Linked DNA regions of Homo sapiens: regions 1 and 2 are each reported to be linked to region 3. The links are microRNA targets in miRTarBase. Many come from high-throughput screens and were not tested one by one. Region 3 holds a microRNA gene; each other region holds the end of a gene's coding sequence.
Evidence for each region. Region 3 holds the annotated microRNA hsa-miR-661 (UGCCUGGGUCUCUGGCCUGCGCGU, at 1,508-1,531, shown strand). A microRNA usually pairs through its seed, bases 2 to 8, with sites in the 3' UTR of a target mRNA and lowers its output. Matches are read on the target gene's strand: a 7mer-m8 pairs with bases 2 to 8, a 7mer-A1 pairs with bases 2 to 7 and ends in A, and an 8mer does both.

Region 1: the mRNA of TUFT1 is a reported target of hsa-miR-661. Seed matches in the 3' UTR shown: 7mer-A1 at 2,164-2,170 and 7mer-m8 at 1,633-1,639.
Region 2: the mRNA of TIMM10B is a reported target of hsa-miR-661. Seed matches in the 3' UTR shown: 7mer-m8 at 823-829.

What each region holds. Positions count from the first base shown.
Region 1 is chr1:151,581,369-151,584,614 of GRCh38, reverse strand. It overlaps TUFT1 (tuftelin 1), which reads right to left. Exons shown (of 13, transcript NM_020127.3): 13 at 1,032-2,971. The coding sequence ends at 2,908. Among named protein-coding and RNA genes, the nearest start is that of SNX27, 29 kb to the left of the region's middle.
Region 2 is chr11:6,481,712-6,484,957 of GRCh38, reverse strand. TIMM10B (translocase of inner mitochondrial membrane 10B) reads right to left here. Exons shown (of 3, transcript NM_012192.4): 2 at 3,106-3,201; 3 at 277-2,913. The coding sequence ends at 2,737. Among named protein-coding and RNA genes, the nearest start is that of TIMM10B, 1.8 kb to the right of the region's middle. RefSeq lists an enhancer at 2,835-3,246.
Region 3 is chr8:143,943,491-143,946,736 of GRCh38, reverse strand. MIR661 (microRNA 661) reads left to right here and starts at 1,458; the gene lies at 1,458-1,546. It overlaps LOC124902040 (a long non-coding RNA gene), which reads right to left and starts at 2,873. Exons shown (of 2, transcript XR_007061144.1): 1 at 2,567-2,873; 2 at 1-1,171. It also overlaps a transcript of PLEC not described here. RefSeq lists an enhancer at 1-28 and a silencer at 2,557-2,826.

The DNA of each region.
Region 1 (3,246 bases), not on the chromosome of region 3:
GTCCAAGGACTCTCTTAGACCCCTGGTTCGAGTCTCTGGAATGCCTCCAGACTGCTCCATTATCTGCAACCCAAATCTTGGTTCCTCCCACTGAGCACAGGAGGCCCGGCGGGAGCCTCCCTTTCATGTATGGCAGCACACTCACTCCAGTATTCCTCCAGCCCTGTGAGTCTTCTTGGCACCTTGGTCAACCCCGCCCTGCTTCCACCCTGTTAATATTCTAAGAGCAAGTACAGTCTAGATCTAGCCATGCCAAACAAGACTGCCAGAGAAAGAAGAGAGCCACGGGTGTCAGAAGACAAATCCGGGTCTGCAAAGGAAAGAGGTTTCCAATGTGTTTGAAGCCTGTGGTGTGAATTGGCTGAGAAGCAGGAGAAGGGGGAAGAAATCAGAGAAAAATGTACACTCTTTCAATTGAAGAAGAGAAATGGGAGCTAGAAAGGAAACAAGCCAGGGATGAGGGGTTGTTGTGTTTCTGGTTTCTTTGGCCCAGAGAAGATTCATGTAAATTCAGCTATGTCCCCATTTGGCCCTGCAGTCAACTGCCTTCTTGGCAGAAAGGAAAAAAAAAATCATGAGACTAATTGAATGATGCCCAGAGACAGCCAGAAACGAACCCCCTTGAACAGCTGCAGTCAGCATTTCCAGAGTGCTTTTCATTTCTGCAGAAGGCATGCAGTTACTCATCTACCTCCAGTGCTGCTGTTCTATCTCTATGTAATCACAGGACTCTACCTCTATCTCTTCCAAATGAGACACAATGCGGCCAGGCTTAGGGATCCTACAAGGCCATTGCTCCAGAGAGGGTCAAAGCTAAAGTTAGGGGCTGCCTCCTACAATCACGACTCAGAGCACGGAGGTGAGCTTCTTCTAATACCTCTATAAATGCCACAAAGTCCTCATATCATGGCATTTGGGATGTTTGGACCACACCTCCCACATGTGGATAACAGGGTGCCCATCTTCCAAGAAGCACTAAAATGTTCTTCTTTCATCCTCCCTGAAAAGTGAAAGGAAACCAGACCAGGAGGTCAAAGAGACACATTAATATAATTTATTAAATTCGCCATACAAAGAATATGCCACAGACAACAATATCAGAAAGGGAAGAAACATGGATATCACCTGCTCTGACCCCCTCATTTTACAAATGAGGGAACTCCCTGAAATCCCAGAGCATTGTTATGGACAAAGCCAGAATGTGAGCCCAGTCTTGAGACACAGAAACACACAGACTTAAGGATTCTGGCTGCGTGAGCCACATAGAGCCTAAACACTTAATCCACATTTGTTTTGAATTTTTCTGATTCCTATAGTACCATACTCTGATGCCTATCTACTTCTCAAGGTTGTAGGAAGAGCCCTAAAGAAAAACACCATGGGCCGGGCGCAGTAGCTCAAGCCTATAATCCTAGCACTTTGGGAAGCCGAGGTGGGTGGATCACCTGAGGTCAGGAATTCGAGACCAGCCTAGCCAGTATGGTGAAACCCCATCTCTACTAAAAATACAAAAATCAGCCAGGCGTGGTGGCACACCTGTAGTCCCAGCTACTCGGGAGGCTGAGGCAGAAGAATCGCTTAAATCCGGGAGGCAGAGGTTGCAGTGAGCTGAGATCGCGCCACTGCACTCCAGCCTGGGTGACAGAGTGAGACTCTGTCTCAGAAAAAAAAAAAAACAATAAAAAAAGAAAACCATGATGACCTGCAGGGTCATTCAGAGCCAGGATAAAAGACCAATTATGGAGCAAGGGGTTCAGAAGGGCTAGTGAAGAACTCATCTGGGTCCCAGAAGAGTCCTGATTGCCCTCTTTCTCCAAACAACATATACTCTGACCCCAAAGCCTCAGGGAAAGTAGACTCACCTTCCTTAGCTGCAGAGCAAGTTTGAAGGAGAAAGAGAGAAGAAACAGGCAGAGGAAAGGGAGAGAAAGATTCATAATAGTGTCACTCTGACATTAACAAGCCTAATGGGAACAGTTTTCCCGGTTTCAAGCAAATCCAAATACTGCAAGAGAAGGCTATAGAACTTTGGTATTATATCAATCATGAGATGTAAGCAAAACCACCAATAACTTAGCAAAATAAATACAAAGAGGATTTTGCTGGGACTGGTGGAACCCAGTGAAAACAGTTTTCAGGCTCTGGGTCAAGAAGACTGAGGTGTGCCTGGTGGTACACCTTAGGGAAAATCCCTAAAGAGACTCTGGGAGTTTTCACAGCAGAGAGAAGTCACACATGACTGTCTGTAGCCCTAGAGAATTTTTCCGCAAAAGGCTACTCCCTGAATGTACATTCCCTCCTCCCCAGAAAGACAAGGCCACCCAGTCAAAGCTTAGGTTCACTGGCTCTCACCAGGCCTTGCCAGGTAACCCCACTATCTGTCTGCAGGAGGCCAGGGCAGCGTAGGCTGCAGATGGAGCAAGTAGAAAAACAAACAGTTTGTTGCTAAGAACTGAGCTGTGTTTGTGGAAGGAACTTCATTCCCCCAGGACATTCTCCAATCACTCTGGACATCTGTGTCTCCAGCTTTTAGGGCTGAGGCAAATCTTGTCACCTCTCCCAATCTGATGAAGGCCTGGCTTATGGCACAGCCAGAGTCCAGTCTACAACAGAAGGGAGGCTCTCTACAGAGAAAAATAGTCACTGTAGGAATATAGATATTGCCCTGGCTCCTGCTTGCAGGACAATGTCTTCCAAAGGGCTGCAGTGCCTTGAATAGGTGCTCGTGCTCCGTCTGCCCAGCTTAGAGTGGCCAGGGGCTTGGGAATGGTGAGACACAGGAGCCCGAAGTCCTGGGTGCAGCCAGGGGACAGTCAGGAAGTCAAAGGCAGTGTTAACAGCCAACAGGGGCAGTGGGCTTCTCCGAGGCAGAGGCAGCAGCAATGGCAGCAACCATCTCCAGGCAGCTCAGGTTTCCACCACTCGGATGACAGGCATGGGCTTCGGGCTAGGCGGCTTGGATATCCTAATACTGAAAAGAAGGTTGGAAACACTGAGTTGTGCTGGGAACAGCTGTGTTGTGGCCCACCCTTCACAGAGCCCCTGGAATCTTCACATTGGCCTCTGGAATCTTACACTGCAGTGCTGGCTGATCACTTGGGTTCCAAGTGCTTTAAAACAGTAATTATCAGTGACAACTAGGGGAAGATTTGGGGCATGATACATGTGTCTTGTAGCAAGGGTGAAGAAAAGAGAGGGGCAGTTAAACAACTGAGAAGTGGATATAGCTGTGATTCTCGATTTTGT
Region 2 (3,246 bases), not on the chromosome of region 3:
TGGAAGGTAAAGTGGTAGGAATAAGGTTTTTCTCCTGAACACTGAACATATTTATAAACAGGAAAGAACCAGGACAAGAGATTGAAATTTTAAGAAAGGGATTAAGAGATGGGTCAGACTGAGGGACATTTGTTTTTTCATGCCTAGAGGCAGGTTAAGTACAGATAGAAGCTCTCAAAGTTCAAAGAGCAAAGGCTTTAGAATCAGACAGATCTATGCTCCTAGCTCTTCTTTAGCAATTACTATTGTGTGACATGGAAGGACGGGAAGCACAGATAATTCACAATGGAAGTTTATTGCAAGGATACACACAAATGTTGATGTGGAAGGGTCCTCCCACCAGCAGCACAGTATCACAGGTCCCATCCTCCTATCTTCTGGAAGTTAAGAAGTTCAAACCTGTTTTACTTGCATTTATATTTCCCAAGGACAGAGTGCCACCCTGTGGGTAAGGTCCTAGTCAGCAACTTTTACCTTCCTAACAAACTTTTCTGTTCAAGAGATAGCAGCTAAAGGGGGCAAAAAACATGATTGGAACCACTTTTCTCAATAAGAAACTTTGTATAGGCCGGCCGTGGTGGCTCACACCTGTAATCCCAGCACTTTTGGAGGCCGAGGCGGGCGGATCACAAGGTCAGGAGTTCAAGACCAGCCTGACCAATACAGTGAAACCCCGTCTCTACTTAAAATACAAAAACAAAATTAGCTGGGCGTGGTGGCGCATGCCTGTAATCCCAGCTACTCGAGAGGCTGAGGCAGGAGAACTGCTTGAACCCGGGTGGCGGAGGTTGCAGTGAGCCTAGATCGCTCCACTGCACTCCAGCCTGGGTGACAGAGCGAGACTCTGTCTCAAAAAAAAAAAAAAGAAGCTGTGTATAAATGTTTGCACGAAATCTGCAGAATGTGCCTTCTGGCACATTCTGGATTCTTGCTTCCTCATCTGTTAAGTGAGGTTAATACCTCTTACTTATAGTTGTTGTAAAGATTAATATAAAGCATGACATCTACCAAAATCAGAACCTACACAAAGTGTGTGCTCAATAAATACTATCTTAAGAGGCAGCCTGCTGTGTAAAATGAACATGGACTTTAAAGTCAGATCTGCACTTTAATACCGGGTCTGCTACTTGAGAATTTCAATTTTCTGCTCTGTAGATAGGATAGAACATCTGCTTTGTAGGTAGTTGTAAGAAGTTTTAAAATTATTACTGTGGAAACCAATGTCTAAGAGCTTCAATTTCTCTAAAAAAGGAAACAGGGTCACCTGATGAGGGTGGGGTATGGGATTAAGGACAGCAGTAGAGGTGTAAAATAACTGCCATGGTAATTAGAGAAGGAAATGGACCAGGAACCCATAAAGGTGTGTGTTGGTGTGACTGCGTGTTGGTGTGAGGACTTGGCTGAGGTTGGAGGCCTTGAATATTTAGTGGCATTCATTACACAACTGTTTTTCTCTAGCAGTTTGAATGAAGGAATGGAAAAGACAGAATAAGTGGAATGATACAAAAAGATGGCCAATGGTGGCAAGAAAATGGGGTGATGGAATGATATGCTATCCAGGCTGCTGAATACAGAAGTAAATTACACAAAGTTGGGGGGCGGGGGAGGCAATAATGAGAAAAGAATGGAGAGGCTGGAATTAGAAATCACAGAATGTACTCAATGGGACCAATGTGGGGCAGATGATAGAAAGCTGGATTTAGGAGTTTCTAGACGAGCAGTGAAACATTAACGTAGCATTAAAGAAGTCCCGAAGATTTAGTTTTATCCCTTTTTATCATAACCATTGCCATCTACTTCTCCCTTCAGTTTCTCTTCCTCGGATTTGGCTGCATTGCAGAATATGGTCCCCAGCTCTCTCCCTTCCTGATTGCCCGTGAAGACAACCACACAGACCTTTGTTCAAAGGTTTTACTGCTCATCCTGAGAAGACTGTACATACTAAGAAAGTAACAACCTGGGGAAATGGCTGAAGTTCCAAAAGACTCCAGACTTCTTACAGGTTTCATCTCTCTTCTGTGGCCACTAACTTCCCAAGGAGGCAGTGCCCAAAAGCCCTGTGGTTTTTTGATCCGTTGTACTTCGATAGCTCCTCCTTTCCCTAGATCCAGCAGAACTCTAGACATGTAAGACATAGTTCACAAAACAACAGTTATGAACCAACAAATACTTGGCTCACGGTTATGAGCCACTGAAGTCAGTCAGACTTAAGGACAACTAGACAGAGCTCCCATTTTCTGTCATCTGGGCAGGAACCAATCTCCTGTTGTATAAAATGACCTTCTGGTACTTTCTGGAATCTTGCTTCCTCATCTGTTAAGTGAGGCTAATACCGCTTACTCATAGTTTTGTTGTGAAGATGAACTAAGAGCATGACATATTACCCGTTTTAAAATTGTACACACAGACCCTGCTTTAACCAGATGCCTGCAAATGCTCAGGTTTTCCTTCTACATATAGAAAACAATTTCTCAGCTGCCAGGGCTGAAGCCAGCAGATATGCACTAAACGACAGAACAACGGATTGTGCCAATAAAGTAGGCAAAGCTTCCTTGCCCAGAATATAAATCAAACTGAGTAAAAACTGGGTATATTGGCTCCAGGAAAAGGAGCAAGGACACCCAGCTTTCAGGCAACCTCGAATTCTCTCTGTTTAGGATTCACCAACCCCAAGGTCCACCGGGTCCTTCAATCTGAGGGTCCATCCAAGGCCTTCCTTCCTGGGGTTGGGTATGGCTAGCTGCCTGATGGAGAGACCCCAGGCTGTTCAGCAGCAACGCCTGGCACAGCCGAGGCAGCCTCGTAGTCTGCGATGCGGCGCTGTACCAGGGCAGGCATGAGCTGCACGTAAGCGGCCATGAGGCGGTGGTTGGAATGGATCAGCTTCCCAGCACAGCTGTGCAGACAGGCCTCCTAGAAGGAAGATAGGGTTTAAGTGGAGGATAAAGGTGCCCTGTCGGGTCCGCCTCCTTTCTTCCCCATGCCCAGCCTAGGGGTGAGGGTCGTGGGAAGGCCAGGGCCAGAGGTACGGGAAGTGGGGTGAGGAGGGAAGCAGTCTACCGCTAAACTCTTCTTGCAGCGTAACCTCCCTACACAGTTCCCCACCTCCTCAGCGTCCAGAGCTCGGTGGTGCAAGCTGGGCACACAGCGCTGGAAGCAGAGTTCTGTCATCCGATTGTAGACCAACAGGAAGTCACGCAGCTGAGAGAAAAGGGGGACCACAAACTCAGCGATAAGGGCCCCACA
Region 3 (3,246 bases):
GGGGCCTGCAGCGGGAAGGGGAGGCTACAGGGTGGGGTCTGCTGGGCGGGGGGTCTGCTGGGCGGGGCAGGAACAGTAGGGAAGACCCGTGGGCTGGGGCCGGAGGGCTCTCTGGGATTGCAGGCAGGCCAGTCCCCTGCACCCCCAGGCAGGTCTGCTGGGCTGGTCTGACCCGTCAGTCGGCTGGGCTTCATCTCTGCTTACTGACTAAGGGGTGGCTGCGAGGAGGAGCCGCTGCTACCAGGGCATGAGTGGGCCCTCCCTCTGCCTCCCACCCCTTCCCTCCTTCCTGCCTCGCCTTCCTCCCTGCCGGCTCTCGGAGCAGCCTGGCCTGTGTGGCAGCCATGGACAGGTACAGCATGGAGGAGCTGATTCAGCTGGGCCAAGGTAGGGCAGGCAGAGCTGGGGGCTGTGGGAGGCAGAGGAGAGGGCCGGGGCCGCCTCTGGCAGACCTGTCTCTTCCCGTTGTCCACCGTTCTGTGCCGTCAGACCTGGGATGCAGGGATAGGCACAGCCCCCTCTCGGAGCTGCCCCAGGGGTGTGTGTGATGTGTGTCCCGGAAGCACAGGCCTGTCCGGACCTCCGTGGAGTGGTAGAAGAACTGCCCGCTGCCAGCCTGGGGCACTCCTCCCGCCAGGAGCTGGTTCTCACCCAGGCCATTGAGTCAGGCTCCTCTGAGGCTTCCCCAGCACGTGGCAGGGAGTGGGCTGAAACGTCCGGCCTGTCGGCCCCTGCCCACTGCTGGCCAGATGCTGTCCTGGGCTCAGCTGGGAGTTGGGCCCTTTCTGGCATGCCTGGGTATCCCTGACCCTCAGGGCTGCCTGGGCCCGCCCGACCCCTGGCCGCCCAGAGTGGGCCACTGCAGGCATTTCCCTCGGCCGCACGTTTTTGAGGTGTGGGGCTGGAGAGCAGGAGGCTGGGGTGGGCCCGGCCCTCTTGTTGTCCGCGGGCTTCCCAGCATGGACCTGGGTGGCCTGCCCAGTGGCCCGGGGCCAGGCTGGTTCACTGTGCCTTGCTGTGGGCTGAGGTAACTACACTGGAGGCCACCTGGGCTCAGATGGCAGCGTGCGGGACAGCAGGCGGCGCCTCAGGCTCCTGGTCTGTATGAGGCCTTCATGGTATAGGACTTCATGGGGTTTGCTGAGGGTTCCATGTGGTGCCAGGAGCGACGCTGTGGAATGGGGTATACCGTCAACGTGCATTCTCCTGGGCCTGAGGGGTGCGCCCAGCAGACAGGGGTCCCAGGAAGAGGAGCAGGACTGTGCGTGTCCCACGTCCTGTTTCCCCGGCTGCATTGGGATCTGATCTGCATAGGATATGCTGTGGGCCTGCCTGTGGCCCGGCTCTCTGACCCAGGCCTTCCACAGAGCAGGGCTTCGGGACTCCTGGGTGGAGCCAGGCCAGTCTCCTGCCGTGGCCCAGGAGAGGCGTCTCCATCCCAGATCCCTGGGACCCCAGGAGAGGCTGTGCTGTGGGGCAGGCGCAGGCCTGAGCCCTGGTTTCGGGCTGCCTGGGTCTCTGGCCTGCGCGTGACTTTGGGGTGGCTGTCCCGGCCACCGGTGGGGCCAGGTGCTGTGTTGAGTGACCTGCGCAGGGCCCTCTGGGAGAATGGGCGGCCTCTTCTCTTGGCCCCTGTGGCCTTTCCAAGAGCACCCCCTGGCTTGGCAGGGCAGGTGGGTGGGGACTGCACCGCCTCCTGCAGGGACGTGAGCCCGCACCTCCCGCGCCCTGCTCTATTATATTAGAACCCCCTGTGGGAGCTGGGGGACCGAGGTGTCGGGTGGCACCGTCCAGCCAGACCTGACTGCAGCGGGGCCTGGGTGCCCTGGCGCCGTGCGTCATGTTCCAAGTCTGGGTGGTGACGGTCCTTGCGCGCCCTCCTCGGATATTTATATCCCCTGGGCCCCTGCCCACTGCTCCCCTCCCCCACAAGCTGCTGCTGACAGCAGCACGGCCGTGCCCTCCTCCCACCCGACGCTGCCGCCAGTGGCTTGTGCCTCCTCCGAGGGGCCTGTGACCTCCCACACCCCTGGCCCGCTCCGTCTGCCCCGTGGGCTCCTGCCACCGTCCCCGATGAAGATCGTGCCCGGTAGGTGGGCAGCCCTTGAAAGCCTTGTGAAATCCTGGCCCCTTGCTGGGGACAGGGGCCAGAGGGCTGGGGCTGAGGCTGGAGGCCAGGGGCGCTGTCCCTCGCCCTGCACACAGCCTGCCTCATGTGCCCTCACCCAGACCCCCTCAGCCCTGGTCTGCAGTCTCACTTTTGGGGTGTTGGGGCTGGTGAGGAGGGCGAAGTTGAAGGAGTGCAGTGGGTTCAGCTGCAGGCTTGAGGTGGGGGCTCTGGCATCCCTCCATGCCTGCCAGCTGTCCCCAGAGGGCAGCCTTGGAGGCAGAGTGGGCTGCTCGGGCCCCTCTTCTGGTGGGGACAGCAGGGGGAGGCTGGGAGGGAGGGAGGGTGTGTGCCGAGGCCGCGGGCAGTGCTGGGGGGCTGCGGCTTGGCCAGGCGTGCGGCTGGCCCCTCCTCCCGGCGGGTGTGGCCGCGGGGACGCAGGGGTTAAGGCCAACTAACCTTGAGCGTCAGTAGCCCTGCGCAGGGACAGCTGAGCCGGCCGGGTGGGGAGCGAGGGTGGGGAGGCGCCGAGGGCCGGACCCGCGGAGGGAGGAGGAGAGGAGGCGGGCGGGAGCTGTTGTGGGGCTGCCGCCGCGTATGGGGCGGTCCTGCGGGCAGGGCAGGCTCCGGTCCCGGCGCTCCCCCTCGCTCGCCCTGCACGCAGGGAGGGGGCTGTCTAGCCTGGAGCAGCCGGTTCCCAGCGCAGGAAGGGCAGCCCTGGCGGCTCCGCGTGGCGGCTATGGAGCCCTCGGGCAGCCTGTTTCCCTCCCTGGTGGTTGTGGGTCACGTTGTCACCCTGGCCGCTGTGTGGCACTGGCGCAGGGGACGTCGGTGGGCGCAGGACGAGCAAGGTAAGCCCCGCTGGTGGCTGCCAGGGACTCGAGGCGGGGCAGAGGGGCCGCCTGCCTCCCGCCCCTTCATTCCCTGCGCCCTCCCCTTCCTGTTTCCAAGCTGAATGTCAGTGAAAGCAGTGTTGCCCCTCCACCCCACCCTGCAGTGTAGACCCTGACCCTGCTGCAGTCCCAGGGCGGGGCGGGCTCTGCAGTGGCCCTCAGCCTGCAGCCTGTGCGGGACAGGTGGGTGGAAGCGGAGGCCGGCAGGGCAGGAGCGTCCCCCACACGAAGGGAGGCCTGTGGCAG